Regions from separate parts of the Homo sapiens genome. Here all the other regions are linked to region 2. The links come from fine-mapping of genetic effects on gene expression. A gene starts in region 2. Each other region holds a variant in brackets. All regions are shown on one strand. Distances are from middle to middle.

Region 1 (7,689 bases), 130 kb after region 2:
GAGTTGTTTTCTAGGAGATATTGTGGATGACGATGGAATCGGTGGCCTTGGGCCACCCAGACACGCATTTGCAAGAAGGCAGCGCATTTGTGGGAATCAGCCTCTGTACAGAAGGCCGGCCACAGCACTGCTGCCCCCACGTAGTGTGGGGATGGTTGGCATAGTGTCTGAAAGGGGGAAAGAATGAGACGGCTTATTTTCTGTATTTTACTACTGCGCTGTACCTAGATGATGATGATACGTGAGTTAGGCTAACATTTCAACGTAATTTTGGATAGAGACCTTGTCTAAAGTTTACTTCATATTCAAACCTGTCCAAATGAGAAGACGGAGGGGTCCTACATGTCCCAGACTTTAGTTGGGGGAGGTGGAGTCGTGGGCCAGCCCTGCCGCAGGCCTCCTCCTCTCTGTCCCTCAGGGTTCTTCTCAGGTGGAGTTGCGGAGCTGGAGTGTGTTGTTGCGGTGCCCAGTTTGGACCTATTACCCCAACTCAGTGCCTGGTAGCCCCCGTTGTTGTTTTTTTTAATTTATTTTATTTTATTTTTGAGATGGAGTCTCACTCTGTCGCCCAGGCAGGCGTGCAGTGGTGCCATCTCAGCTCACTGCAGTCTCCGCCTCCTGGACTCAAGCGATTCTCCCGCCTCAGCCTCCTTAGTTGCTGGGATTACAGGCGCCCCCCCATCACACCCATCTAATTTTTATATTTTTAGTAGAGACGGGGTTTCACCATGTTGACCAGGCTGGTCTGGAACTCCTGACCTCAGGTGATCTGCCCGCCTCGGTCTCCCAAAATACTGGGATTACAGGCATGAGCCACTGCACCTGGCCACCCCTATTGTCTTTATAACCTTGACACACTGTGTGTCTTATGGGGTGAGCAGTAGGAGGGGACTTTAGTCTGTTCCCTTCCAGAGCCTTCTGAGTGTGAGTCCAAATGTGCCCACACCATGGTTCCCAGGATGGCATTTGCATTCAAACTGTTACCCATTAATCTGTGAAAGCCTGAGCTTTAGACAAACCTGAGCTGCCAGAAAGGAATTTCCAGTGCATTCAGGTGCTAATGAGCAGGAATGAGAAGTCCTAGCTAACTTCCTAGGCTCTTAGGCTCTTTCCCATCTTGCTGGAACTTCCTAGCAACTTTGGGAGGCAGCCCTGGCAGGAATTTTTATATTTTGTTTTACTTTGCAGCTGAGTAAACTGAAGCTCAGAGCTCATGTATAGTGGAATTGGGGCTTGACTGTCAGGCATCTAACTTGAGGCCACAAATATCCGTGTAAATGTTTGACTGACTTACCTTCATGCTTTGAGATTATTTTAATACGGTGATGCTTGTGACCTGTGTCTGTTGGGGCTTAGTTCCTTAAGAATCCTGATTGAAACAGTGGCCTGACACCCAGCAGAGATATGGGTAATGTACACACAAGGATTCCCAAATGACCAAGAAGGAAAGCTCTGTAAGGGAGTATTAATTGTTTGCCTCCAGGATCAGTATTCATTCTTGGATCAAACCCCAGCTCCACTGTACACCAGCCACGTGATGCTGGGTGCTTCCTCATCATCTCCACATGTCCTTTTGCCATCTGCAAGGGGAGGATAGTAACCATGACTCATCTCACAGGGTGATGATGATGTGTACATGAGATATTGCAGGTAAAGATGGAGATGAGAAGCGTGACCAGTTATTGTGACTACAGGATGAAGGGGCTGGTCTAACCTTGAGCTTGCGAGGAAAGCAGAGTAAAGATGCCTGCTGACCCTGGACAAGGGTTTTCTGCTCAGAATTGTTTGTCCACTTCAGGTGGGTTCTTCTGGCCCCCTGAGGCAAGTGTGTGCACTGCCACAGCCCCCTTTCTGATGCTGCATTTCTTCCTCTGTGAATGGAGAGATTCTGAATTCATTGAATGCATTTTCATGATGTGATACTTTAGGCCTGCGTACCAGGAAAATAAATGGTCCCAACCACAGTTAGCTCCTCGACTTGCAGGGGAAGGATGCTGAGTGGAAAGTCACATTGGGAGGTAGTCGGGGCTACAAAAGGGGTACAAGTCAGGAGAGGTTGAGCCCAGAAGGGAGTCTCAGAGAGGTCAGGCTGCGTAAGCAGACTCGAAATTTTGCTATAAATGTGAGCTTTGAAAAATGATAATCCTGCCCTGGGAGGAGTAGTAATGTCTCCTTCTCTTAGTGATCCACATGAACCTCCCCAGCCAAGACCTGCTGGTCCAGAATCTAAGACAAGAGAAGTTCGGGGAAGTGAGGATATGAGGTGAAACGAATGAGAACTGTTTTCACGTGCCTGCTTGAGCCAGCACGACTGCATCCTGCCTTCCCTGAGAGACACGCTGAGAGACACGCTGCTTCCATCAGCCGCTCTGTGGCTGTTCAGCAGGATGGCGTGTTCAGCCGGGGAGTGGTGTGTCATCAACCCAATTTGGCAGCTGAGGCAATGAACACAGAGCCAGGACCAGACGACCTGGGGGCATTTTTACTCTTGAAAAGAACTTAGACATTGATCAACTTAATAGGCTCATTTCATGGAAGAAGTAGAAATGCAGAAATTGAAAATCTTGCCCTGGTTCATGTAGCCTGTGGGAATTAGAAACCATGATTCCAGGCTCCTGGCCACCTCTCTTTCCATGGAGGGCCCCTTGTGGGGATTTCTTCTCTAGAATGGGCTCCCTCTGACCACATTTTGTCCATGTGTGAAATCCAGCATGACTGCTGATGCCTTCCATGTGTGAGTGGTGGCCGTGGGCAGTGCCTGATGACCTCATCTGATGGACATTCTTTTCCGTCCTCCTCCTCACCCCTCTCCCATAACCCGGGTGCAGAAACATTCAGGACATTAAACCCTGGGAACCTCAATTTGAGATAAGACCTCTTATGTCCTGTGGGTCAATAGGAGTGACTCAAACGTTATGAGAAGCACATGGTCGCAGGGCCTGTGAGGACCACCTCAGCTTGGGGATGAGTCCTTAGTTAAGCTTATGCTTGATGTTGCAATCTTGAACAGAAAAGGGGGATGAGAGAGGAGAGAGGACAGTAGAGAAAGGGGGAAGATTTATTTTAAAGAATTATATTTAAGGAATCAACTCACACGATTGTGGGGATGGCAAGTCTGAAATCTGCAGATCAGGCCACAGACTGGAGAACCAAGGAAGAGCTGATGTTGGCATCGGAGTCCAAAGGCAGAATTCCTTCCCAATCTATGCCCTCACTTTTAACGGCAGATGGTCTGCAAGGTTGGGAATTCAATTTGCATTGTAATTCAGCCACTGCCAGGATGAGATCCTACTTCTGGTTTTCAGCCATCTCAGCTCTGCATCTATGGGACATAAGGGCAGACATAGAAACTTTTGATTCATTCATGTGGTGCTTGAGCTGGGAATTTGAATCCCTGAATTCATTCTTCTTTTTTCCCCCACTTTGTCTAGTACAATTAGGAGCAACCAACCACTCTCGTTATACTTGTTAATTTTACAAAAATGTTTAAGGTATCTGCTACACACCCACCTAGAACCTTGCCTCTTAGAAGCCTTTGGGAGTATTTAATAATATTTTCTGTGTCTCTATTGTCCCATCATGCCCTGTACTCTCCTCTTTTTACTACTGGACGTAGAATCATTAGTGCCTTTCAACCCAATCAGATCTGAGAACGAATTTCAGAAACCTCAGAACCCATTCAGAAAACTCATTTTTAAGATGATGTTCTTCTAGAACCACTCTTGCTACGAAAACCTGACAGCACAGTCCCCAGGCTGTTTGTTAGGGTCTGGCAT[A/G]AATTCTTGGAAAGGCAAAGGAGAATGGTGAGAGCGTGTGTAACTGTCTGTCTGTCTGTCCATCCCAGTTGGTTTTCACTGTGCTTTGGTGGCTGCATATGGAGCTACAGATACTGATTTCCCACAGTTCCCACTTTGGATTTGTTCTCCTGCTTCTCGTCCATGGGAAATGACTGCCAGAGCTGGGAGCTATCAAGCATATTTAAACCGCAGCCTTCCATTTATTCTTCATGAATGCACACGGGCCCCAGACTGGTTGTAAATAAGCACCAGCTCCCATCCCCTGCAGTTCTTGGCCTTATAGAGAGCCTGCCAGAGGCTGGCTTGGTCACATCCTTCAGTTTAGACTTTACCTGGAGAAGAAAATCACAAAGGTCTAACGGGCACCCAGATAGCATCAGCAGTGTATTTAGAGAAGTGCAGAAGGGCCAATTAAGCCCATTTCGTGGTTTATTATTATTAGTGGTAATTATTTCTGGCATGCAGTTCAAGGGTGTCTGTGGCCTGGCTGAGCTCCGGAAGTGCATCCACAGCACCCTCCTGTGAATGTTTATAGACCCAGGAGGGGAGCCCTGGGTTGGGAGCTCCAGACCACTGGGGATGGGAGGCAGAGACTCTATGTATAGATCATACTCTTGTGGAGGTAGAGGCCTGGAACATGATGGCTAAACTCCTGTCGCTGATTCTGGGCTAAGAAAGAAAGAAAATCCAAAAGACAGCAAGGACCTCTGAATCCCTGAGGGAAGTTGAACAGAGCAAAGTAGAAATGAACCACAGGATGGCTCCATCCCTCCCCTGGCATCCACTGCCCCTGCCCCTGAATGTCCCTATCTTTGCTTAGCTGTGGCCCAGAAGTCCACTCAGCCTTTGTCTAAAGAGGCAGGTTCTGCTCAGCAGTGGCGTTGAGAGCTCAGACCCCATTTTGGGTTTTCTAGAGGCAGAAGGCCAAGTTCATTCTCTTGAAGTGAGGTAGATATTCCTGTGCACAGAGAGAAGGGGAATCCAGCTCCTCATAGAGCAGCTCCCCACCCCAAGCTGAGTTGTGTTTCGCAGGGAGAGATAAGCCTGTGGTCAGCAGCATTCATCCCCATGGTATTCAGGCCACTTTCCAAGAACCAGCCCCTCCTTGTACTTAAGTTTCTAGAGGCAGGGCCGAGGAGCAGGCACAGGGAGAGGATGAGCGTCGGCAAGTTACAGGAAACTCAGGAAAATGTTTATGTGTGTCCAGGGATTTTCAGAGACTATCCAGCCATTCTTTATCTCCAAGTGCCTCTGCTCTCATGAACTTCTTCATGTGGACAAAAGCAGGAAGCCTTTAGGGCCACGCATCTCTTGTTTTCCTGTGACTTACACAGCCCTCACCTTTGTGCTTAGATGGACTGTGGCCAGCGGGACCTCCAGGCCTGGCTGGGTCAGGAGAGTTTTGCTTAACCAGATCTGTTTGATCCTTGAACCAAAAGCGGGGAGCCAGAGAGATCCTTTGAGAACTGATGACTGCTGCTGGGTCCTGCCCAGCCATTTGCATTTTATAAAGGTCTTTGGCAGCGGCCAAGGCCTTCTCATTATGTGGTGTTTTTCCACTTCGGGATGAACCGGAGTGGTTTGTGCAGCCACCTGATAGCTCTTTGCACCAGCTTCTGCATGGGAGACTTTGAGCAGGCCAGGAGCCAAGGGGACCCTCCTAGGCCTTCCGAGCACCTAGCACTGGCCCTTTTCTTCCTTGGGGCTTCCTTCTGGAGGAGGTTTCCCTGGGTTTGGAGTCCTCCCTCCTGCTGGGGGTGGGGGCGTGGTTGCTGGTGGCCTGGAGTGAGCTGCCTGCTGTGGCCTCCAGCACTCCCCAGCTGAACAGCGAGTCCTTTGTGAAATTCCTGAGGCAGGAGGGGGCAGCTGTGCAGAGCCAGCTCTCAGAGTGGCCGACAGGGAGGGTGTTGTGGTGTATCATCAAGTGATAAGGCCTTCGGAAAGGCTGTGGAGAGGAAGGAAAACACATTCCTGACTGTGGTGTGTTTGCCCTTGAGGGCCCTGTGTTTGGGGAAGTAGAGAAGCTTGGCTGCATTGTTGTGGGGTGGGAGTTAGCCCTGTGCTGGGGGGAGCTAGTGAGAGATGAATTCAGCTGACCTGGGATCAAATTCCAGCTTGGATGCCTTTAATTAATAACATATTAGACCATTTAATCAATTTAACACACGTTTTTGGAGTGCCTACTATGTGCAGGCAGGTAAATGATCTTCAAGGTGTCTCCATCAGGTGGAAAGTCAAAAATTCAGAACTGGGCAATGACTGGAGGGGAGGATGGGATTCTCAGGTGAAGGGTGTGAGACCCGAGTTGTGTTTTGGACGATGTTAAAGGAGGAGATCAGCTTCCAGTAGTGAAGAGCATCTGATGCTTTGGTGAGGAGGATTTTCTTTTAAGTCCTTGAATGCAGAAGGGCTCCTTTGGAAGATTTTATGCAAGAGAATGCCATGGAAAGATTATATTATAGTGGATCACTCTGGAAGTGTCATGCGGAATGAATGGAGAGGTAGGAAGCGGGGTTGGGAGAGCAAACGTAAATCTAAGGTCCAATTGGGAGGCTCTGTTGGAATGAGCTGGCGAGAGATGATGAGGGCCTGATTTAAGGAACGATTGTATTGAAGGCACTAAGGTATTGGCATTCAGCGAATGTACATGAGTCTCAACTTTCTGGTTTACATCTGAATGGACAGAGAAGAGGACATGATCTGAGCATCAGGGAGTTGATGTTTGTCTTGGACATTGCATTAATATAGTTAGGCTAGGCTTCCAGAAACTCTGAAATCCCAGTGGCATAATGTCCAGTTTGTTTCTCTCTCACAGAGTCAGCTGTGAAGATGGTGGCTGTAACGGACAGCTTCTTCCAGGCAGTGACTCAGGGATCCAGGCTGTCTCTTGAGGATATCTGGGGGGTTATGTATTTGCCCTGAAATACTTCGCCCTGGTGATGTCATGTGTGATTTCCTCCCGCAGACCTTTAGTCAGAGCTAGACACTGTGAAGGGCTAGGAATTGTGAAAAGATTGTGTGAATGAACAGGAAGGTTAAATTTGAGGTGCCATAGGCCATGCATAAAGAACAGTCCAGATGGCACCTGGGACCGGATGCCTGGACACCATCCGAGCAGGAGATTAATGGAATTGAAAATCAGCAACGTAGGAGACAGAAGCCTTCAGGATGTCTGGGATCCTATAGGGAGGGTGTGTTGTTTGAAGAGCAGGGGCTGAAGGTGGAATCTTGGGGAGCTCATGACAGGCTGGCAGAGGTACTGAATTTCTCCAAGTCTCAGTTTCCTCATCTGCGAGATGAGCCTGATATTTCCTATAAAGGGATAGTGAGTGCACTGGGTGCTGCTGGGCAGGCAGTGGCTCCTCATAGGGGTGGTTCCCTTCCCCCTGCATTGTGTTGGACTGAACCTTGTGTGTTCTGTTTGTCAGGAACTGTGGTGTATGGCGAGCCCATCACTGCCAGCTTGGGAACGGACGGCTCCCATTACTGGAGCAAGAACTGGGCCAAGGCTGCTGCCTTTGTCACCTCCCCACCCTTGAGCCCTGATCCAACCACTCCAGACTTTCTCAACTCCTTGCTGTCCTGGTGAGTCCTGGCGACTTGTTCACACTTCACATTCTGTCTTTCTTCAGACCAGACTGACCTGTTAGGCGAAAACAACATGGTGGCCAAGAGCAGCCATAAAACTGGGAGACCCTTGTTCACCAAACTAGGTTGGCTACATGAGTACAGGGAATTGTCATTCTAGCACCATTTTGGGAGGGGATTCTGGATAAAAACCTGGGCCATGTTGAAAGTCAAGCCAAGAAGGGAGAGGAGGCGTCAAAAGGACTCCACTTGGGTTGGTGTGATGCCATTCATGAGACAGCCCACCAAATAGGTGTAGGCGCAC
Region 2 (7,689 bases):
TATAAATTATCCAGCCTCAGGTATTCCTTTATAGCAACACAAAATAGACTAAGACAATAAGTTACTAACACAACACTCTCCAAGCATTTGTTTCTGTTTCTGTTTTTTGAGACAGGGTCTCACTCTGTTGCCGAGGCTGGAATGCAGTGGTGTAAACACGGCTCACTGTAGTAGCCTTGATCTCTCCTGGGCTCAAGCAATCCTCCCACCTCGACCTCCTGAGTACCTGGGACCACAGGCACATGCCACCATGCCTGGCTAGTTTTTTAAATTTTGTGTAGAGACGCAGTCTCCTTACGTTGTTCAGCCTGGTCTCAAACTCCTGGGCTCAAGCAATCCTCCCGCCACAGCCTCTCACAGTGCTGAATTACACACTTGAATCACCACACCCAGCCTTTCCTAACATTTGAACTTTAACCCATCATTTGAGAAAAAAGAAAAAAGGAGGAAGCACACCTATCAAGGATTTTGTTCTGGAGAACCTGTGAGGATTAGAGAACGTAAAAAAGTTAGAGTTGGCCAGGCGTGGTGACTCATGCCTGTAATCCCAGCACTTTGGGAAGCCAAGGCGGGTAGATCACTGAGGTCAGGAATTCGAAACCAGCCTGGCCAACATGGCCAAACCCCGTCTCTACCAAAAATACAAAAATTATCTGGGTGTGGTGGCACGTGCCTGTAATCCCAGCTACTTGGGAGGCTGAGGCAGGAGAATCGCTTAAACCTGGGAGACGGAAGTTGCAGTGAGCCACGATTGCACCACTGCACTCTAACCTGAGTAACAGAGCAAGACTCTGTCTCAAAAAAAAAAAAAAAAAAAGTTAGAGTTCCTAATACCTCCCAGTTACTGCTGCGGAGTGTGTGTTAAGGGGCTACAACCATTTCCCCCTTGGCCTAAACATCTTCATCAATTCGAATGGGGGCCATACGCCACAGTGCTGTCCTGTAACTCTATCAGCAGTGCTCCTGCTGTGGGAAGATCTCCTGAGTCTTCTGGGAAGTGCTGAAGGCACCAGGGGTGCCAGAGAGCCAGGAGGGCAAAATGCTGCTTCACCCCTGTGCCCAGGAGCCCCAGAGACCTGAGACTGCTGACTTCTCCATGCCTGACTTTTCCTTTCTAAAATGTGGGGACTGTGGGGGAGGGCCAGGTGCAGTGGCTTACACCTGTAAACCCAGCACTTTGGGAGGCCAAAGCGGGAGGATCACTTGAGCCCAGGAGTTTGAGACCAGCAACATAGTGCGACCCTGTCTCTACAAAAAGGAAAAATAAAAAAATTAGCTGGGCGTGTGGCACTCGCCTGTAGTCCCAACTACTTGGGAGGCTGAGGAGGGAGGACTGCTTGAGCCGAGTGGGTCAAGGCTACAGTGAGTTGCGTTTGCACCATTGCATTCCAGCCTGGGTGACAGTGTGAGACTCTGTCTGAAAACAAAAACAAAAATAAAAAAACCAGCTGGGGGCAACCTTCCTCCCCACTGGGATATTTAGAGGAAACAGGGAATGTAAAAAGACACTGCCCAGGAAAAAGCATCTCTATGGTCTACAGAATGACTGCTATGCTGAAGTTAGGCTATCTTCAGATGACTCTTCCTCCCAGTGTGACCTGCAGTGTTACCTTCAAATAAAAACATGGCAAGAAACACCCTTGATATACAATAGGGCCATGGATGGAAATATCTGGATACGGTAGAAATAGAAGAACCTTGTATTTTCTCACATAAAGGGGGTCACAGGACAAGCTGGAAAAGAAGCCAGACTTTGAGGTGGAAGACTCCCACTGGAATTGCTGGATCATTTAACTAAATACCCAACCTTGGCTATGCGCCCCAAGCTCTCTAAATCTGTTTCCTAACCTGGAAAGCAGTGCTGATAAGGCACGCATCTCACAGTGGGGCTGTGAGTAGGAAATGATGTAATTCAGTTGGAAGCGCTTTTTTCAAATGCTTTATTCAAATGCAAAGCACATCTGCCGCTAAGTCCAAAATGCCCCCTCCGGTTCTCTCAGCCCCTCCACTCCTATATTCTTCTTCCCCAGTCTGTTTCTCATCCGGAGACGCCTTTCCACCTATCAAGATGGGCTGATCTTCAAATTGCGACTGATTGTCCAGCAGATGTAACTATATTCACCAAACTATCTCTCACAATTGGACTGTGGGGGTGGTTGGTAACCGCATTTAATCCTGGGCTGACAATGGGACTGGATCCCTGGTTACACGGCCCTACGCGGTGGCCCTGCGGTAAACGGCCTCTCAGCCCAAACCCACCCTGGTTACTGAGCATGCCCAGAACTCCCTCCCGGGCCACCAAAGGAGGGGCACCATTTCTGCAGGATTTTGCCACTGTGGAAAGAGAGGCGGAGCTGTCATCGCGCAGAGGCAGGGACTGATACGCGGAAAGGACGTGGAGATGGGAATAAGCAATGAAGGACCAGCATTGACCGTGTTAGGCACACAAATCTAATTGCCCCCTGGTTACTTACCAACCCGGTGGCCGTGGCTCAGCTACTGCACACACACACCAAGTTCCTACACACCTTTCCCCTGCTTGGCCCCACACAATTCATGGCACTCACAGCCCACATCCTACCTCCTACTCCGCACCAGATGCGCACCCGCACTTACTCCCCAAACACGTGGCATCTGGTAACCCGGGAAACGCTGCGACTGTGGCGCAGTGCGCAACAGGGGCGGGGGAACCAGGCGGGGCTCTGGGGCGCAGGGGAAAGCTGGAGATTTGGGAAGGGGGTTTCAGTTTGTTTTTTCTCTCTTTTTTTTTTTTTTTTTTTTTTTTTGGTGGAGGAAGCAGAATAAACCAAATCGCGACACGTTCCTGCGCCCTTCTTGGCGCAGTGGCGCAGACACGGTCCATGGCGCCTTGCGCAATAGAGTCGGTCTGCACCCCGTCTTTAAGTCGTGGCCCTGGGCTGGAATTCCCGACTGCACTCTTTGCTACACCCCCATAGACCGCAGACCTGCGTCTCTCTCTATATTCCTCTCCCATCTGCTACGCCCCTCTGAATTTCTTCCCGCCATGTTGTGTGCCCCCCCCCCACTCCCCCGTCACCCCAACCACACCAAAGTGGATGCACGAAGCGGGAACCTTCTCGTTTCAGTCTCTGCTCCCTGCAGCCTGCCAAGGCGAGTGGACAAACTGAAGCTGGGGTGTCCAGCGTCTTGGCTGCCCCCCTCCTGTCCACCCTGCCTGTGCTATCCTTGCTCATCTTCAGTGCCATCCCGCTTCCCACACCCTGAGTAGCCTGGCGCCCGGCTTGTCCCCTTTTCCCATCCATCAGCTCACACCCAGGGTAACGGGGCGGGACCCCTATCCACAGTGCGCCCTCGCCCCCGGCCCACCTCCGCCATGCGGCGGGGCAGAGGCGCCTGGGCCAGGCAGGTGGAGGAGAGGGGCACTGGGGCTGGGGGCTGCGTCCTCCGGTCCTCACTCCGCGTGCCCTGCCCGATACTTACCCAGGCGCGGAGAGCGGTCAGCGGGCCCTCCGCTCCGCATCCATTAGCTGGTGGTCTGGCCGCTTCACTTCCGGAGCGCGGGGCTAGGGGCGGTGCCGCCCTCCCCTCTCTCTCTCCTTCCCTCCCCTCCAGCCCTCCCCTGAGCACCGCTCCCCTCCCCGGCGCCGCGCCCCGCCCGCGCCTCCCTCCTCCCAGCGCTGCCGGGAACTGGCAGCCTTTCGGCTCCCGCAGCCGCAGCGGACGCCCTCCCAGATCCAACTTTGCCGCTTCCCCGAGCTCGCGCTGTAGCCGCGGGGGGCGTGGGCAGGGAGGGGAGAAGCGGGGTCAGGGGGAGGGACCGGGAGGGTGGGTCGCCGGCTCGCCAGCCCTCCTTCCTTTCTGTGCACCTTGCGGTGGGCGGCGAACGGCAGCCGCGGCAGCAGCTAGGGGGCTTGTGCACACAGCGAGGGAGACTTAGGGACTGGCAGACGGACGGACGGACGGCGAGGACCCTACCCGAGCCCCCGAGCCATGGCCGAGAGAAAGCAATCCGGGAAGGCGGCAGAGGACGAAGAGGTCCCTGCTTTTTTTAAAAACCTGGGCTCCGGCAGCCCCAAGCCCCGGCAGAAATTCTGTGGCATGTTCTGCCCGGTGGAAGGGTCCTCGGAGAACAAGACCATCGACTTCGACTCGCTGTCGGTGGGCCGGGGCTCGGGGCAGGTGGTGGCTCAGCAGCGGGACGTCGCCCACTTGGGCCCGGACCCGCAGCCGCCGTACTCGCGGCAGGGCCGGCGCGCCGGCGGAGAGCCATCTGTTGAATCGGGCCGGAAGGTGGAGATCCGGAGGGCCTCGGGCAAAGAAGCCCTGCAGAACATCAACGACCAGGTCGGTGTGGGGGTTGGGGGTGGAGACGGAGGACGGGGCGCGGGGATCGCCCCTCCCTCGCCCCTGAGCCCGGCGCGCCCGCCTTCATGCCCCGCCCTGGACCTCGCCTCCCGCATCTGCACGCGCACCCCGCCCTACCCGCCCCTTCTCCGCGCAGGGTGCGGCGAGGCTCGGGCTGGGCGGTGGGCGGCCGTGCGCCCACAAAGGCTGCCCGCGTCTCCTTGAGCTTGAGAGGTGGGGCGTGGGCATAGGGAATGGGCTGATCCCCTGCTGGGGCGGGCGGTGGTCGTCTGGGAGGGGGTTGGCCGCGGTTCCATTCTTCTGAAACCCTCCCGGGCGGCTTCCGATTGCAGCTGCGGCTGGGTGCCCCACCCTTTTTTTGAGCGGCTCAGAGCGTGCGGTGGAGGCTTTGCGTGAAGGCCCGCGGCTCCCCGGTGGTCGGGAGGGGCGGGGGTTCGGACGGCCGCTCCCTACAGCCTCCGCCCGCGCCTTCTGCGCTCACGTCCCGAGCTCCGAGGCCAGGACCATGGTCAGCGCCCCCCGGACCCCCTCCGAGCACCGCACCGCCCTTGACTCCTGCTCGCAGCGTGAGAAGAGCCAGGAAGGCTGTGGAGTCACCCGAGGAAACCGAGACGCTCCTAAATAGCCTATGTGGGGAACAAAGTTCCAATAAGTGTCTCAGCCGGGGCTTCACAGAGCGCTCCCCAAACCGCTATGTGGGAGGCGCTTTAGGAAGCGGGGAACTAAGTGGATTATGTTCAAAGGGTCAAAAAGACAAGAAAAGGGGGAAAACCCCTCGCACTCGAAATAGACTGTCGAAGAAGACTAAACCCCCTTTTATTGTGTTAATGGGGGAAACAAAGGCCAATTTGGTCACGCTTGATTTTAGAAAATGTTTGTCACTTTCTGACAAATATGAACAGTGAGCATTTTCAGCGCAGTAATAATCTCACACCACAATTCTTTCTTTATCTGAGTGATCCTTACACTAGTGTAATTCTTTTCCACAGCCTTAATTTCTTAACTGATAATTTACAATGCAAAATGTTTTAACACGTTTTCCGTTTCTCTCCCATGCCTGCTGGTAAAAATAATAAGTCAATCAATGAATGATTGTTGATTGAATACCTATTGTGCGCCTTGCCTTGTAGGGCAGAGGGAAGGTTAGTTATAGAAAGTGCAAGAGGTTTCTTCTTCTCAGAGGGCTTCCAGAGTAGTTGGGAGTGGTCTATACATATTCAGCGAGGGATTCCACAAGCATTTACATTTGTGTACTTACAGTGACAGCCTTTGAGAACAATTCAGAATTGGTGATGATGGTTGGGGCATGATTTGACTGTTTGCTGATGTGACATAGAGTTTTGCAGCTTTTGACTTTTGTAGGGTCAAGTCTAGGAAAAACAAGGCATTTGCTGTCATTTGTAAAAGGTGACACAACTAATAATTTATATCCAACCCCAGCCCTGCCCTCTAATTTATTCATATAAGGGAGTGTCTCATATCCATATTTCACTATGAGTCAACCAGAAGAAACTAAATCCAAAAAACTTGCTTTGTTCCAAGTGATCAGACAATTGAAGTAAAAGTTTCTAATAATGTAACTTATACTGAAAGCTGAGTGAGTGTGTGTGAAACACTTCCCTGTGTGAGTACATTGAGTGAGGGCCAAAATCATATAGCATCTTGGTTGAGTGAGTAGCCTCATGCATGGCGAGTTGTGCTGGTGATTGTGATGTCCTAGAGAAAGCAGAAAAACAACTGGAGAATAAAGAAGAAATCATGTAAAAAGTGGCAGATCAGAGGATAGGGGTTGAAAGTGGCCCACCCCTATCATGAATTAGAACTCAAGTTTGAAAGGCATAGTTTTATCGGGTTGAATAACACTTCTTTTTTCTTGGCCATTTAGAAGCTTAGATATATGAAATTCTAAATTGTAAAACTAAGGCACGCAGAGGGGGAGATTTGAAGAGAAAATACTCAAACAAACTGCAAGGGAGTTTTAGATTGCAATTCACATTGATTTCAGTTGCCCAGTTATTAGTAACAGAGGGCGATTCTAGCTTGGCCTTTCTGCAGCACCTTCCCCTGAATTTTCATGTTTAATCTTGCCTTATCATATAAGGCCTACTCAATGAGATTTTGTCATTCACGACTAAGAGCATTTACCTGGATCAGTACTTGCAATGTTTCAATATTTCATGTCTTTAGAAAAGGGGAAAGGCTGTGGCTATACATGTGTTTATATTTATAACAATGTGACTTCCGAAAAGCTCAACTGGCCCACCATTTTGACTGAGTTGACTTGTCATTAGTTGGTTTTCAACGAATGAGTTGGGTGAGTGCCAGCATCTCTGTGCATTCTAATTGGAAGCCCTGACGCAGAGAAAGGTGGGGGAGATTGAGAATGGGTGGATCCTGGGACCCTGACTCACACCATCCCTCCTCTCTTGCAGCTTTATTTATGTGTTACTAATGTATGGTCAGATGTGGCTTTGCTCATCTGTTGCACTAAGAGGCCTGCTGTTCCCCTAACAAGGCTTTGGGAAGGGAGAGAATAGGCTTCCTTGACCCACATGCCACATGGCTCATGGAAGATGAGAGATGTTGGACATGTGCATTTGCAGGAACTAAATGAAATTATATTCAGAGTATGAGCCAGACAGCACCAGAAAGCGATGGGTGTGGCTTGACTCGGCATGTCAGATTTTGGCGGAGGAAAAGAGCTGGCATAGTGGTTGTGAATGAGGAAAGCCTCTATCTTGTTACTCTCTTTTTCCTATAAGTCCACTTTGGGCTTCAGTGAGGTTACATTGATCACCACTGTGAAAGACTCTGAGCCTCTTGGAAGAGAGAGAAGAAAGGCATCTCTGTTGGCCCAATCCCCCCTTGTCAGTGCCCAGGGGTCCTTCAGCCTCTTCCCTTCCTCCTAGGAACTTCCTCCATTCCACTCCAGACACAGCGTAGCCAGAACCAGTGGCTCCACCAGCAATACTGGACCATAAGAATGCTTTTCAAAGGGGCCTCTAGGCCCTTTTCCCAGCAGCAAACAACCTATGCAGGCTGGAGTGACAGGGAGTGATTCTCCTCCTCTCCAGGGCAGGTGCCGCTGAATGAACTGCACAGTGCTGCTGAGCTTGGCAATGTTACTGAGTCTGTGAAGTGCTTTCTGGTGCTCCCTTCCATCTGGGTCCCCATCCCTTCTGCCTGTGTTGAATCTCTTCTGGCCCTGGGAGCCCAGTGCTGTGCTGCCCTCTAACTGTACAACGTCATCCCTACTCCATCCCCATAGCATGCCCCTTCTAGACCTTTCTTCTTCCAAAGGGCAACAGGTTCTAAAATCAGTCTTGGCTTCCCTTCTCCCAT
Region 3 (7,689 bases), 140 kb after region 2:
GAGACGGTTTGTGTTTCACTTGGCACAACGCTCTTGACATCCATCTAAGCTGTCGTGTGTATCAATAGTTTGTTATTGAAAAGTAACTTTTTAACTCGTTTCTGCTGTGTGCCTCCTGTGCACACCTATGCTGTCTCCCTCAGGTCACTGGGAAGATGGATGAGAACCAGTTTGTGGCTGTGACCAGCACCAATGCAGCCAAAGTCTTCAACCTTTACCCCCGGAAAGGCCGCATTGCTGTGGGATCCGATGCCGACCTGGTCATCTGGGACCCCGACAGCGTTAAAACCATCTCTGCCAAGACACACAACAGCGTAAGACCTGTTAACTGTGCAGACCCCATCCAAACGAATTACAGTCACAGAGACACAGACGGAGGGAGAGCCCCAGGGTTTCTAAAAAGAACTTGCTGTGATGGGAATGCGCTCGACTGAGGATGTTATGATTTGCAATTTGCTGGGAAAAGAATAGTTATTTCATTTTCTTTAGTGAGGTCAATAAGATTGTTACTCTCATAATCATTTTGGAATACCACAGCCTCTCTATCTATAGACCTTTAGAGCCTCTAAAGTGATGTCAGGATGTGCAAAGCTTCCAGAAGTCAGGCACCGCTCCATTTTCATAGGTTGGCACAGCACTTCTCATGGCAGTACTTGGTGCAAGGGACCTCAATGAAGCAGTGAGATGTCCTCTCCTGAGATGCCCACTGGGGACTTTGATCCTCTTAAGCCATTGTTTTCTCAGGCCAGTATCCATGCAGAAAACTGGATGACAGCCATTCTTATTATCTTAAAGGAATTGATTGACTGACTTCTCCCTAACAGAAGTACCCCCCAGCCATTTGATTGTTGTTTTAGGATCTGCCGCTTTGGGTATCTCTTCCCTCTGGGTCTGGGCTTTAGAGCTTAGAGATGTCCTCTCTTGTTAACAGGACCCAGGGCAAGTCTGTTAATGTCTTACGCTCCTCAGCTGAGAGTGAGGGGTTCAGACGAGGTCTCCAAGTGTCCTGTGATTCTGTGAGGTCAGCAGACATTAAGCAGAGTTGTTAGACACTGCCGATTCCTCACAAGCAACATGGTATAGGCAGAAAAACTGAAGGAATATGCCCAGAGGGAGAGCTTTGGAAAAGAAATGGGCCTCGGGCAGAAGAGTTTCGTGTCAGGAACTCATTTGAATCTTGAAGACAGCTCAGGCCAGCAAGCACTGACACCTCCCCCACACACCACGACAGCTTAGGGCAGGTTTCTGGCATTTCTCCGGGACAACCCTGGGACTTTGCCCTGTCCCAGTCCTCTCTCATTTGCACACACAGAGGTGTTTGGGCTGCAATGGGCTCAGGCTCAGCTCTGGCTTCTGCCACCTGTGAGGACCAGGGTGGTGGGTGTTTCTCAGAAGACTGTTCAAGTCTGTGTTTAAAGCTGTCTTTCTCCCTCTCCCACCACCACTCACTGGCTCAGCCTGGCAGCGCAGCCTTATGATCGCGCCCCTTACAGCCCAGATCATGACTTCTTGGGTGTCCTGACTGGCTATTTTATGGTCAGGGATCCTAGGGCCCTGCCCCATGAACCTCCCTATTCATGTGCCTGTAACTTCACATTCTCATTGACTCTTTCATTTGACCTTCTCAATAAAGGGACTGGTATTATTATCCCAATTTGGGAAAATAAATAAACGGAGGCTTAGAGAGCTTAAGTGACCAGTCTAATGTTACATAGCGATTTTGCGGTTGAGCCAGAATTAGAACCCAAAATTGTTCAGGACTCTTCCCTGCCAGACTGCATATGCAGCCTCTTGGTCAGGCTTAGACGGGGAAAATGCTTCCCCTCTCTTGCAAGGTTGCTTCCCCCAGAGGTGCTATAAATGGCTGGCTGGGCTCGTTATTTAAGACACAAATGACCTAGCTGGGGAACTTGCATTTGGAGTTCTTAACCTAGAAGACGAGACAGTGGGAAGGAGAGAAGATTTGGGAAGACAGATTCTGCCCTCCAGACATTTTCACCCCAACCTACCCTGCTTTTACCTCCAGGTGACCTATGGAAGAAATGTTGACTTTCAAAGCGGTGCTTTTCCATCCCCACCTGTTTTAAAGAGCCAGCACTAAGCATGTGCCTGTTCGTTCATCTTCTGGGAAAATGCAACCAGGAGACTTTCCCTGCATAGTACAGTGTTTCCTACCATGAGGCTAATTAGCTTTAGTTCAGAGCATCTAGCTAACTATTATCGACAGCCCTGTTGCTAAGCCTTTGCTTGGATTTTCCAGGCATCTGGCCCGATGAGTAATTTTAGGGAGCCTGTGTGGATGTAGGTTAAAAATGTCTATGCATGGTGAGTGAGGAAGCCTCCCTGCATCATGGTTTGATGGAGAGTAGGCTCTGAGTATCTGGGAATTGTGATCTGACCCTTGGACTTGTCAATGTTAAGTCACTGAGAGTCATGGGGCTGGTTCTTCCATCTTTTAAAAATGATAGATGGCCCCAGAGGTCTTCTAGGTGCTCATTTATAAGCAACAAGACTCAACGCATGCATTGTGTGAGATCTTGGATGCTGCAGGGCTGGCAAGTGTTAGCAAAGTGCAATAAAGAGCCAGACAGTGAATGAGTGAAGATTTTCTAAATGCCTACTGTGAGCCAAATAGTGAGCTAGATGCTTTTGTTCATTTTATTTCATTTGATTCTCACATGAGTCCTGCAAAGGGGGACCTACTTACCCCTCACAGATGAGGAGGTGGAGGCTCAGGGGTGTGAGGGATGCATCCAAAGTCACATAGCTGGTGAATGGCATACCTGGGGTGTGAACCCAGGGCAGATGTCTCCATGGCCGAGGCTGCGCCCATACTCTACCCAGTAGGGCACAAGAGGAGGTTGTCAGGGCATAAACTGTTAGCTGTGGAGTGATGTGGAAGAGATGGCTCTTGATCCAGGCCTTAAAGGATGACTCACACCCTTTCAAAGGTTGTTTCTGAGATGACCAGGGATGAGGCTTTTTGTATTGTCATCTTCACATACACCTCGGGAGGGTGCAGATGAAGAAACTGAAGCTGAGACAGGATTAAAGCAATCTCCCCAGAGTCACACAACTTCTGGATTTTACCGTATCTGAGATGCCATCGATTTTAAGATATTCCATTAGGTTATGTACCACGATGAAAGAAAACATGCCCAAGACGAGGAGTCTCATAGGAGACTGGGCCACCAAGGGCCAGCGTGTGCTTATTATGGCATCTCTGGGGAGACCATCTGCTGTGCAGACAGGGGTGGCAGAAAATCTCGCAGGCCTCGACCTTGGCATTGGTTGCCAAGAGGGAAAAATGTCTCCCCCAAGAATTGGAACTGGAAGTGGGTGCTTGTCCAGCCTTGTGGTCTGAATGCATGCCGCCTGTGTGGTCCAGAACAATGTCAAGCTGAGAATTTACTGTAAAATGCCCTCAGTGGGGTTGTCCCCCAACCCAGTGGCACAAACAAACCCATATCCCCCTAGAAGAACTTGGATTTAGTCTAGGCTGGCAGTACCCGCGTGGCTCCGGCTGCTATAAGACACATTCTGACTTCAGGGATGAGTGTCTTAGAATTGATGAAAGACAATTTTAAGTCTTGGGTCTCAGTAATCCAAGTGCAGAGTCCTCTTCCCTCCCTGCTGGCGCCTCTCTGCTATGGTTCCTTTGGTAGCTTCTGCATGACTGCTTTGAGACTCAGAGCAATGTACTGACAGCCCTCGTGGTTGTTTTCACCCAACATTGTATGCGGGGCATTGTGCATTTACATGCCTGATGTGAGCTGCTGAGCTGGCCGAATCCGTGTTACCAGCCGCTGCACTAAGCAGAAATGTCATCTTGAACTGCAGGGTGCTAGCACAGCTCTCTGTTCAGAGGCCAGCTCCCTGAGTGCTGATAACCTGGTCTGAACTTTCCCAGAAGCCCAGGGTGCTTTTTATGGTTGGAGCAACCTATTAATCCTCTAGTCCAGACTCAGCCACAGCCATTGGTCCCCGTGAACCAAACAGGCAGGAAGAAGCGGGAGGCATTTGGGATCTGGGAAGTAGCACTGGGTTAGCAGAAGCTGCAGGATGGAATGACTCCTGTGCAATGACTCCTGTGTTCTGTTGCTTCATTACCAACCACAAACTCACATCCATATGGAGACCCCACCTATTTTCCAAGAGGGCACACAGATATGTCTCTGTTTTACCCGGAAAAACTTGAAACCAGAAGGATAGCTACATAGCTACATTGTTCTGGAAATTAACTAGCCCTCAATCATTTTATCGGAGGCATGTCTCTTCAGTGACCACAATCCTTTCATTTAGGGACTTCAGTTTAACCACACCGCAAACAGACT[A/G]GAAAACCAGGCTAGCCAGTGGGAAAACCTACTTGTGGATGGCTCATTTCAAGATTAAATTTAGAACTTGGTCAGAGAAGGCCTTTGGAATTCAACCGGAATGGAGCTGGAGATGGTGGGAACACAGTCTCTGTTAATAGGAAGAATCATTTTCTTTATATTTGTGTAGCATTTACAAACATGCACCCTTTTCACACAATTATTCTGTTTAATTATTTTTCTTTCTAATGTGGAGAGGTAGAAAAAGTTATTTCATATTCTAGACAGGGAAATGGAGACACAGCAAGTAAGTGCCTGCTGGGGTGCCCAGTTGGGACAGGATCCCTGTCTCTGAGTCTCTCTTTTGTCTCTGTGGGGTTGGGGCAGTGGGTGCTGCCGGGTGGATTGAGTCCAGCCAGAGTGGCCTGTTCTAGAGTTTACTTTGCCTTCTTCTCAGTCTCTCGAGTACAACATCTTTGAAGGCATGGAGTGCCGCGGCTCCCCACTGGTGGTCATCAGCCAGGGGAAGATTGTCCTGGAGGACGGCACCCTGCATGTCACCGAAGGCTCTGGACGCTACATTCCCCGGAAGCCCTTCCCTGATTTTGTTTACAAGCGTATCAAGGCAAGGAGCAGGGTGAGTAGTTTTGTTCTGATGAATTTTTTGTTAAATCACGAATTAAGTTCAAGGCCACAAACATTTATTAAGCACCTTGAGACAGAATATTAAGATGAATTTAGTGGATTCCAGGGATAAGAGGGAGCCTGAATTTTTTATTCCTGGCATTTAAAATACTGGAGAAGGAGTCAGTCGTGTCCACAGAGAGCCCTAGCAAAGTGAGATCATGGTATATGCTATGATAAGGAGTGTGGAGTAAGGACCCAGAGGAGGGAGCCACTGCTGTAGTTGGGGAGAGTGTCATGGGGAGAGGACATTTTGAGTTGGGCTTTGAAGGTTAAGTAGGAGTTTGTCAAGTCAAAGAAGGGAGATGAGGGAATTTGATAAGAGTATCATGAGCATAGAAAATGTACAGTGTATTCAGGGCATGTGAAGCAGGAAAGAGATGGAGCTATAAGGGAATTAAAAGGAGAGAATGCAATTGGAAAGAAAGTTTGGGGCCAGATCTTGAACATGATACCAGATCCGCCTCACAGCATGCTTAGGGGATTCTTACAGGGTTTAAAGTTGAAGTGTCTTGGGGGAAAAATTGTAAGGTGTGTTAGTTTTTGTAGAGTTAACCAGTTACTGGACCTTGTGGGGAGTTTTGGCCTGGCATGGTGGGAGCTGGCCCCACACAACACCTGTCCACCTGTCTGTAAGGAGAGCCCTCCATCCCTAGATCTCACAGGCCCATCCTCCCTCCAGGAGGGTTTCTAGAGAGGTATCCTCTGTGGCTGTGGCCTGAGCTGGGGGGACTCTTGTGTTTTGCAGCTGGCTGAGCTGAGAGGGGTTCCTCGTGGCCTGTATGACGGACCTGTGTGTGAAGTGTCTGTGACGCCCAAGACAGTCACTCCAGCCTCCTCGGCCAAGACGTCTCCTGCCAAGCAGCAGGCCCCACCTGTCCGGAACCTGCACCAGTCTGGATTCAGTTTGTCTGGTAGGGTTGGGGCTTGGGGAGGGCACAGTTCTGCAGGGCCAGCTCGCTGGTGCTGGCGAGGCTACAGTTGCATTTGGAAAGGACACAGAAATAGAAGTGAATGATATTCCCTTTCTCTCCAACGTGAGAAATACAGTGGACTCAGATCTCTGGAGATGTATTTTCTTTTTCTTTTTTTTGAGGCAGGGTCTCGCTCTGTTACCCAGACTGGAGTGCAATGGCACGACCTTGGCTCACTGCAACCTCCACCTCCTGGTTCAAGTGATTCTCATGTCTCAGCCTCCCAAGTAGCTGGGATTACAGGCATGCACCACCATACCTGGCTAATTTTTGTATTTTTAGTAGAGACGGAGTATCACCATGTTGGCCAGGCTGATAGAACTCCTGACTTCAGGTGATCTGCCCGCCTCGGCCTCCCAAAGTGCTGGGATTACAGGTGTGAGCCACCGGGCCCAGCCTAGCTTGGCCTGGAGATGTATTTTCATAGTTAATGACTGGTTGGGTTTCAGAATCTTGAGATCAGTTTGTGTCACACAATGCCCATACTGTGTTTTACCTAATATATTAAGAAGACATTTGTTCAATTTATTAGGTCCATCATAAGAAAGGACACTGTGGTATTTCAGGACTTCTCTTCTCTCCTACAGTATATTGTAGTTTAGCTTGTGGAGTTTGGAGTTTCAACAGCCTAACTTCAGGGCTCAGCTCTGGCTGTGCTTCAGTCTCCTCACCTGTATAATGGCAATAATAGTAGTTGCTCCCCCGTGAGGTTGTTGTGAGGGTTAAATGGGTTAATATATATGTACAGTGCTTAGAATGGGGCCATTTGAGAACTGTTAGTTGTATTTGCTTGGGTAATTTGTGTGATATCCCCTTGGTGAGAGGAAAGGGTTCAGATTTTTAAGTTTCCTTGCTTGAAACTTCTTTCCCATCTTTCATTTGTCCCATGACTAGAACATTCCACTCTTCCAGCTCCCTGGGCCACAGATTCCTATGGCGTATTAAAGAAATTGTTAAACCAGAGAGAATTTTTTTTCTTGGTGGTTGTATGGGTTTTTAGAAAGTAACCTATGTCCCATATATGGATTACCAGTTTTCAAAACATTTAAAAATAAGGAACTTTACTTTGTTGTAAGTAAAACGTGTATAATCATGTCTGTGTTTTCTGATCTCTCAAAGCTGTTCCAATATAAGGTGCCATCGTTCCTCCTACTTGTGATTATATGTGTAGGATTAGGGGATTAGAATGCCAGAAGAGGGCTATGTCCTCAGAAAAGCCACAGCCAATTTGACTAATCAGAACAGGGGACAGGACAGAGTCTAAGATGTAGTGATATTTTGTATATAGTTTTACTTTCTCCAGTAATAGATCCAACAACCTTTATACAGTGTCTGATTCTTTGGTTACCTTAGGCTCATCTCCTTTTTAAAAAGTTTATTTTTATTTTTAGAGATATAATAGTATCTCACTGTGTCACCCAGTACCCAGGCTAGAGTGCAGTGGTGCAATCACAGCTCACTGCAGCCTCGACCTCCTGGGCTCAAGTGATCCTCCCAGCTCAGCCTCCCCAGTAGCTGGTACTACAGGCTTGCACCATCACGCCTGGCTAATTTTTTAATTTTTTTTTTTTGTAGAGATAGGCTCTCACTGTGTTGCCCAGACTGTTCTCAAACTCCTGGACTCAAGCAATCTTCTCACCTCAGCCTCTCCAAGTGCTGTTAGTAGGATTCCAGGCATGAGCCACCATGCCTGCTCTCCACCTCCCTTCTGTAGTCTA
Region 4 (7,689 bases), 82 kb after region 2:
CTCACTGCGGCTTTGAACTTCTAGGTTGAAACAATCCTCTTGTCCCAGTAGTTGGGACTGTAGGTGTGCACCACTACACCCGGCTAATTTTTTACTTGTTAGTAGAGATGGGGTCTTGCTATGTTGCCCAGGCTGGTCATGAACTCTTGGCCTCCGTTGATCCTCCTGCCTTGGCCTCCCAAAGTGCTGGGATTACAGGCGTGAGCCACTGTGCCTGTTTGGTACATTAGTTTTTTTTTTTTTGTTTTTTTTTTTTTATTAAGACGGAGTTTTGCTCTTGTTGCCCAGGCTAGAGTGCAATGGCGCAGTCTTGGCTCACTGCAACCTCCACCTCCCAGGTACAAGCCATTCTCCTGTCTCAGCCTCTCAAGTAGCTTGGATTACAGGCATGCACCAACATGCCCAGCTAATTTTTTTTGTATTTAGTAGAGATGGGGTTTCACCATGTTAGTCAGGCTGGTCACGAACTCCTGACCTCAGGTGATCCACCCGCCTCGGCCTCCCAAAGTGCTGGGATTACAGGCATGTCCCACTGTGCCCGGCCGGTACATTAGTTTTAAAGGGAAGATTGACTGTGGGTGGCCAAGGGATTTGTGTTTTCTGACTTAACCATCCATGGCTCTGACCCCAAGTCACCCATTAAGGGCTGTTTCTCCCTTTTTTTTTCCTCTTCCTCCCCAAGCTGACCTTTCTCTCTTCTTAAGAAGTGATTACTGATTTCTTTAGGTTTTGAGGGTTCTGTCTTTGACTCTCCGTGATTGTTGGGTGAAGCCATTTGCTTAAATTCCTTGCTTTTAGAGCGTCTTAACTGCCATGGTAATGATAAAGGGGAGTGACAGTGAGTAGAAATTAGAGTTCTTTCTGGTTAACCCATTTGGGAGGTAGCTTTCTTTGAATATGACTAAGTGTTCCCCCTAATGACAGAGAGGATGTTGCTGGGGGTTGGGTCGCGGTGGCTGAGGCTGCTGTCCAGTTAAGAGAATTTTGCAATGAACTAGGGCAGTGGTTTAAAAACCTTGACTGCACATTAGAATCCCCTGGGGAGTTGTAACAAAATGCAGAGACCAGACCTTCTGACTTAATTGTTCTAGGTGGGCCTGGCATTGGTCGTTTTGAAAGCCTCAAGGTGATAGCTGGGATTAAGAATCATGGATCCCAGTGCTTGTTCTGATAGTTGGACTTCTGTTGAAACCGAATGAATGTCTGCCAAGATTTTCCGAAACCCAGAGCTGCCCTCTGCTCCCTGCTTTGTCCTGTCCTCTTCACGAAGGGAGTGGGATCACACTGTTGCTATCTGGCCAGGGTGGAGTCTACAGCCAGATGCTCCCCAGAAGCTTAACCATGGAGGGGCTGAGCTAATTGTCACCAGAAAGAGCCTCCTCCTTCAGTTGCTGTCCTTGGTGTTCGGGAAGGTTTTACTTGGCTAATTCCCTAAAAGGGCACTGGTTAGGACTTGGAGTAAGTGGTGATGAGCAAGAGCAGGGCTGGCTGGTGGGACAGGGTGGGTGCCGGGGGCAGAGGGGAACTGGAATGTGGACTGCTGTCCCCAGCCTGTGGCCACCTGCTGTGCTGGTTTCCCTGAGAAAACCCTACTGTCTTTAGGTTGAATCTGTAGTGTTTATGACCTAATCACTCTCTAATGATAGGTCAGGACTGGAATCTTTCCTTGTGGGGAGCCTGTGAGACAAAAATCAAAAGGGCCTGATAATAACATAGAATCATGGACTCTTAAGGCAGCCATTCACCTCCTTCCCAGCCCCGCTCCCACAGCTGGGCACGGTTTATTGGACCAGGCTTCAGAGGATGGGATTGTAAGTAACTCAACAGGACAGGATGGGAGCGCTCCAAGAATCAGATCTAAGTTTAACTTCCCTTTCTAGTGCTTTCTGTCTGAGCGTGATCATCCTAATGTGTTTCTAGATGGCTATTTCCACATGTGTAAAGTGGAGACAATCAATTCTTATGTCTTACGACTATGGAAAAAGTGAGTTTTTTTGTGCCATACTATTTGAAAGTAATCATTGTGACACCTTTGGAACAAGTGTGAAAAGATCTCCCTCTCTCTCTCTCTCACACCTGTCTGTATCCATCTTTATCTTTTTATCATCTATCTCTATCTATCTATTAATATATATTTATCTATCTAGCATGACCTGGGATAGGTGAATTCTATAGCCAGGTGGCCTCCAGAAGCTTACGAAATGATCGTCTACCAAATCTACCATCTATCTATTTCCCTACCTACCTATCATTTATCTAATCTATCTATATATTGATATATATCTATCTGGTCTATATCTATCTTGATATGACATCTGTCTGTACCTATGGTCTATCATCTCTATTTAATCCATCGTCTCTATATCTATTGATTATCACTTATCTGTTTTACTTATCCTAATCTATCATTAATCTATCATCTTTCTAATCTATCTGTATATATCTATTGTTTATCTAATCTATCAATTGACCATTCATCTGTTCATCTTTCATATACCAAAGATGCAGTTGCATGCCACCTGATTCCAGATGGGTTATCTCACTTCACTGTCACTTAGTGAGATCAGGAAGAAGTCTCAAGGATTGTTTCAACTTCAAGCCTATGTACATGAGTTTGCGTTTTGAACATAGCAGGAAAAACAACGATGTATAAGAAGCTTTCTTATTGGCTGGGCATGGTGACTTATGCCTGTAATCCCAGCACTTTGGGAGATTGAGGTGGGAGGATCACTTGAAGGCGCCAGGAGTTCAAGACCAGCCTGGGCAGCAAAGTGAAGCCTTGTCTCTACCAAAATCAATCAATCAATCAATCAATCAATAACTAAAAATAAAAATAAAAAATTAGCTGGGCGTGGTGACACATACCTGTAGTCCTAGCTGCTTGGGAGGCTGAGGTAGGAGGATTGCTTGAGCCCCAGAGTTTGAGGGTGCAGTGAGCTATGATTGTGCCACTGCACTTCAGTCTGGGAGACAGTGAGACCCCATCTTAAAAAAAAAGGTATAATGTAGCTTATAGGGCTTATAATCCTGTAAGAAGACTTCTTATGCAAGAAAATAAAAATTTTACTTTTCGCTATTTTTTTTTTCCTCCTCCAAATAATCTCTGGAGAATTTGGAGCCTGATTTTCTTGACAACACATCTGGCCCTGCAGATGTAAAGCAGTGTTCCCAGAAAACAGCCCGTCAAATCAATAACTCTTGCTATCTTTGAATTTTCAGCCTTTTTTGGCATTCAAATGAGGCCAACTTTATAAGTGGCCATTGCTGTGCTGTTGAATTCAAGCCCCTCCGTTTTTCATGGTGGATTCCTTGCATTGTCTGCTAGGGGGGTTGCATTCCTCGCTGAACCAGACCTC[T/C]GCCCTCTTCCCCGCTGCCTTGCAGTTTGCTGAGCTTCCAGGCAGGGCTGCAGGGTCGTGCTGCTGGAAGTATTGGTGACAAATTCTTCCCCAGTGGGTGTTTCGGCTAAGGAAGCATTTAGTCATGTAGGGCCTACCATGCCCAGCAGTGCAGCGTGGGAGAGGCCTGGCAGAGGGCAGAGCTCTCTTCTCTCCAGCCGGGTGTGGCTGGTGGCTCCTTCCTCTTTTGTAGTGTCAAACCAAGGGATAGTATGGACCCAGCAGAACTGAAAGCAAAGGGAGGACCCATTATTAGCCAGTTCTGGCAGAGGCGAGCAGCTTCTTTGTGTGGACAGGCATATCTCATGCCTTTTTGCTTCAGCTGGGAGTTTGTTTTTTTTTTAATTACTGTTATTTATTTATTTAGTACCTTAGCTCATTAGCTGCAGAAATCACAGGGGATGAAAAAGCAGGTAGGATGGGTCCATCCTTAAAGCAAGGAGAGAGTTGAATGAGGAAACTGTCCCTGAGGCCTTGACAGATATTTTGGAGCTAACTCTGAGCCCAGTGAGGGAGGACCTAATCTTTTGGAGGAAGTGCAACTTTAGCTTCAGAGTTTTAAATGGAAACTGGGCAGAAAGCCACAGCTTGGGCACAGCATTGGTGGCGTGTTGTTGTGTCACTTTGCACAGTTAGATGGGGCTTCAGCCCTCTTTGTAGGATGAACGTTTAGGTTCTTGTCCAAACGAATACACTTCTATATCCTACTAAAAATGATTGCAGGACAGCAGTGCAAACCAGGGCTGTCCTAGGCAAACCCAGGCATCTGTCACTCTAAAGGACACAAGGACACGTGTTGAGTCCTCTTGTCCTCCAGTGAGCTCGGGAAGGGGATGACCCTAGCAGTTGCTCTCTGGACCTCTCCACAGACCTGCCGGGAGTCATGGGTAGGAGTTGTGTGATTCTGTCCTTTTCACAAGAGATGGTTAGAAGAAAGTGAGGAGTTTGGAGGGAGCAGATAATTGATATCATTTATCGGGAATCTGTGGGACGCAAGCCCTGCATACACCATTTCTAATCCTTCCATCAACCCCGAAGATAGATAGGCTTATCCTCCTGTTATAAATGAAGTAATGAGCAGTCCAGAGAAGTGAAATGACTTGCCTGAAGCCACAGAGCCTGCAAGTGCGAGGGCTGGGATTCCAATCCAAGCTCTGGGCCAATGGCCCTTGCATATCCTAGAATGCGAGAGGAACGTTTGTTTTGTAGCAGTTAGACAGCCTGCTCATGAAAGCTGCTTTGTGCCCAGCCTTGTGACAGGTGCTTTACAACAATCCCAGACACAGCACCCACCTTGAGTTTGCCCTCAGGTACAGGGCTCCTATCCATCCTGGAAGAACAGAAAGATTTTGGTGTTCAAGTTTTATCCTGCCCTTCCATCCACCTGTTATTTAAAAGTACTTTTTCTGTAATATATAGGCAGAAAATGATCAGATATCATACGTCTCCTACTAAGTGGGAGGCTGCACCCAGCATGGAAGATGCTCACCAAGACGGTGGTATATTGGGTGTCTCTTCTCTCCTACAGAAGCCCTGGGTTGATGCCCTAGATCTCCCCTTGCATCCCAGAGGGGGATTTGGAGAGCAATCAAGAGGAGTAACTGATGCCATGCATTCATCAACTGAACTTAATCCTTCTTCTGGGAGGCCCGGGAGCCTTCTTCCATGCGGGGCCAGATTGAGCTGATTTCTGTCACGTAGGCTGCTCCGAGGTTGCCTTGCCCTTGCCTGGCACTCATCTTTTGCATTTCTCTGAATCGCTTTGGCGTGGGCTTTTATGAGGTTCATTAGGCTCAGCACCTCCCATGTCTGCTTGGGAAACACCACGGGCAGATGGCATTTTTCTTTTCTTTTCTTTTTTTTTGGATACAGAGTCTCCCTCCGTTGCCTAGGCTGGAATGCAGTGGCTTGATCTCAGCTCACTGCAAGCTCCGCCTCCCAGGTTCACGCCATTCTCCTGCCTCAGCCTCCCAAGTAGCTGGGACTACAGGCGCCCGCCACCACGCCCAACTAATATTTTGTATTTTTAGTAGAGATGGGGTTTCACTGTTTTAGCCAGGATGGTCTCGATCTCCTGACCTTGTGATCCACCCGCCTCGGCCTCCCAAAGTGCTGGGATTACAGGCAAGAGCCACCGCACCTGGCCTCTTTTTTTTTTTTTTTTTTTTGAGGGGCAGAGACAAGGAGGAAGATCAGACAATTTCTCAGAGTTGGAATTGTGTTCTGGGTATTGTTTTTCTCCTTTATGGAGATAATCCAGGGAGAAACATGAAGTGTAATGGAAAGAATTTGAGGCCCAACCTTCTTGATGATGCATCTTCATGGAGCTGGGAGACCTTCGTGCCAGGGTCGACTCTGCTGCTTATTAGCTCAGGCTCGGTGCCCCACGGCTTGGTCCTGGTTTTCTGAATCGTCAGATGCACCTGGATCAGCATGTCTTGCATAATAGGGTTGCTTTGAGGATCCAGGGAGGTGGTGGCTATGGCAGGGCTTGGACAAATTACATGTATGGGGGAGTAGCCCCTTCACCCCAGTTTTGCTCCTGACCGTTGAAGCTTTTTATATTGACCCGTGGCTACTGTGGTATTCGAAGGGCTAAATTTGTTTTGTGACTTTTGCCTTCAGCAGCCATCGCATTACATCATCTACCTTTTCTTGTGTTCTTCTGTCGTCGAGAATCAATTAAAATGGTCAGCATTGCTATGAAATGGTTTATTTTTTTGTGGATGTTTTAGAGCTCCTCCTCTCCATCTCCTGAATTTCTTTTCTTGCTAAGCCTATTCAGCTCTGTTTTTTAGAGAGTTCTTTTCCCTCCTGCTCTATGAAAACGTATTTTCCATGTTAAAAAAGGAAGATCCATGTTGCTGTACTTAATGCTTCATGTTTTAGAATGTTAGTGCCAGCAGAAAGCACCAGGAGACACCCGATGTGCCCCCACCTTGGTGAGCACCTTTCCCCCCAGGCACAGTCCCTGCTTACGGGAGATTTGAGGCATTTGATCATTTTTTCCCGTTAGCTTACAGCACAAAGTACTTTGAAATAAAGATTGGCTCGCAGGGCAGGTTGAAGCTTCAACACCAAAATCTCTCTGTTCCTTGTGGGTGGATGGGAGCCTGACACCTGATTACAAGCTCCAGGTGAAGAGCAGGTTTGAGACTTACACCTTGTTTATTGCAATCTTTCTTTCATTTTGCAGGCGGTGGGGGTGGGGGAATGAAAGCCCAGAAAGGGATGTGGCACTCGGGCAGGACGGGGGCTGCTTCTGTGCCTTTTCCCCACTGTGCGTATTCTTAGCTGCGCAAGTGTCGTGCATGTGCGTTTGGCTCACACCCAGCGGGAGTGCCCTTCTTGTGAAGGAAGCTCGTTCTCTACCGAAAAGCTCACTTTTCAGAGAAGAGCTGGAGAAGGCCTGTTGTCCATCTTAGTCCTGAAATATGAGTTTTCATTCCATGGCAAGTCCTTTTAATGAAAGATGGACTGGAGAAGCTGATGCATAGAAAAGAAATAGGTTCTTTTATGTAGAGGGGGAAAGTGTCCACTCTGCGGTATTTCCTGGGTCCTGTGGCTTGTAGGCATTTGAACTGTTTTGTCTTGGTTCTGAGAGAGTCAGATGATTCAGAAGCTGTGTTCTGCTGAACATTCCTGCCTTCTTGACAGAAATCCCCTATTTTTGTGGTCCCCCTGGCAGGTAAAGGTGGCCCCTACTGACTTGTAGGATTTCTGTCCATGATTGTGTCTGAAATGTCATTTTTTCTGGTTGTTTTCCCTCTTCATGTATTAGCTTGGCTCTTTCTTCTCCTCTTTGTCTTTAAGGTAATTTGCAAAGGTCACACTATTCTTGCTTCTTCTTAGAAATGTCATAAGGGATTTTCAAAGAAAGAAAATTTCTGAGTAAGAGTATCTCCCTCCCCTCCCCTCCCCTCCCTCCACTCCTCTCCCCTCTTTTCCCCTTCCCACTTCCTCCTTTCCTTTCTTTCTCTCGCTCTCTCTCTTTCTCATTTATGTTAGCTTACATGAGTATACTGACTCTAAAAATTTTTGATTCTACTACTGCACTCCAGCATGGGTAATAGAGCAAGACCCTGTCTCAAAAAAATAAATAAATAAAAATAAAAAATCTTAAAAAAATTTAGATATGATTTGTATACCCTCAGATTCACTCTCTGAAAGTGTATAACTCAGTGCTTTTTAGTATATTCACAGAATTGTGGAAGCATCACTACCATCTAATATCAGAACATTCTTACCACCCCAAAAAGAAACCCTACCAATTATCAGCTGCTCCCCATTCCCC

Alleles and levels. Alleles are on the strand shown, and positions count from the first base shown. SD is a standard deviation of normalised expression in the study named. Not every link is listed here.
For the expression in skeletal muscle of the gene that starts at base 3,678 in region 2, allele G in region 1 goes with a lower level than allele A (small effect, 0.14 SD a copy in GTEx).

What was found. PIP is the estimated chance that this variant, and not a neighbour inherited with it, causes the effect. A credible set is the group of variants that fine-mapping cannot tell apart.
Region 1: its variant is the best candidate, but not a certain one, in a credible set for the expression of DPYSL2 in skeletal muscle (GTEx, PIP 0.82).
Region 3: its variant is the best candidate, but not a certain one, in a credible set for the expression of DPYSL2 in whole blood (TOPMed, PIP 0.62).
Region 4: its variant is the best candidate, but not a certain one, in a credible set for the expression of DPYSL2 in T cells (TOPMed, PIP 0.51).

Annotation. Positions count from the first base shown.
Region 1 is chr8:26,636,214-26,643,902 of GRCh38, forward strand. It overlaps DPYSL2 (dihydropyrimidinase like 2), which reads left to right. Exons shown (of 14, transcript NM_001197293.3): 9 at 7,226-7,382. Among named protein-coding and RNA genes, the nearest start is that of DPYSL2, 130 kb to the left of the region's middle. RefSeq lists enhancers at 307-1,271, 1,272-2,236, 7,212-7,689. The variant A/G (reference allele first, on the strand shown) is at 3,777.
Region 2 is chr8:26,510,354-26,518,042 of GRCh38, forward strand. It overlaps DPYSL2 (dihydropyrimidinase like 2), which reads left to right and starts at 3,678. Exons shown (of 14, transcript NM_001197293.3): 1 at 3,678-4,326. The coding sequence starts at 3,973. PNMA2 (PNMA family member 2) reads right to left here and starts at 3,519. Exons shown (of 3, transcript NM_007257.6): 1 at 3,463-3,519. RefSeq lists enhancers at 1,680-1,974, 1,761-2,633.
Region 3 is chr8:26,647,487-26,655,175 of GRCh38, forward strand. It overlaps DPYSL2 (dihydropyrimidinase like 2), which reads left to right. Exons shown (of 14, transcript NM_001197293.3): 11 at 144-314; 12 at 4,771-4,950; 13 at 5,746-5,911. Among named protein-coding and RNA genes, the nearest start is that of DPYSL2, 140 kb to the left of the region's middle. The variant A/G (reference allele first, on the strand shown) is at 4,335.
Region 4 is chr8:26,592,233-26,599,921 of GRCh38, forward strand. The region is part of intron 3 of DPYSL2 (dihydropyrimidinase like 2); the gene reads left to right. LOC124901916 (a long non-coding RNA gene) reads left to right here. Exons shown (of 2, transcript XR_007060865.1): 2 at 1-3,097. Among named protein-coding and RNA genes, the nearest start is that of DPYSL2, 82 kb to the left of the region's middle. The variant T/C (reference allele first, on the strand shown) is at 3,357.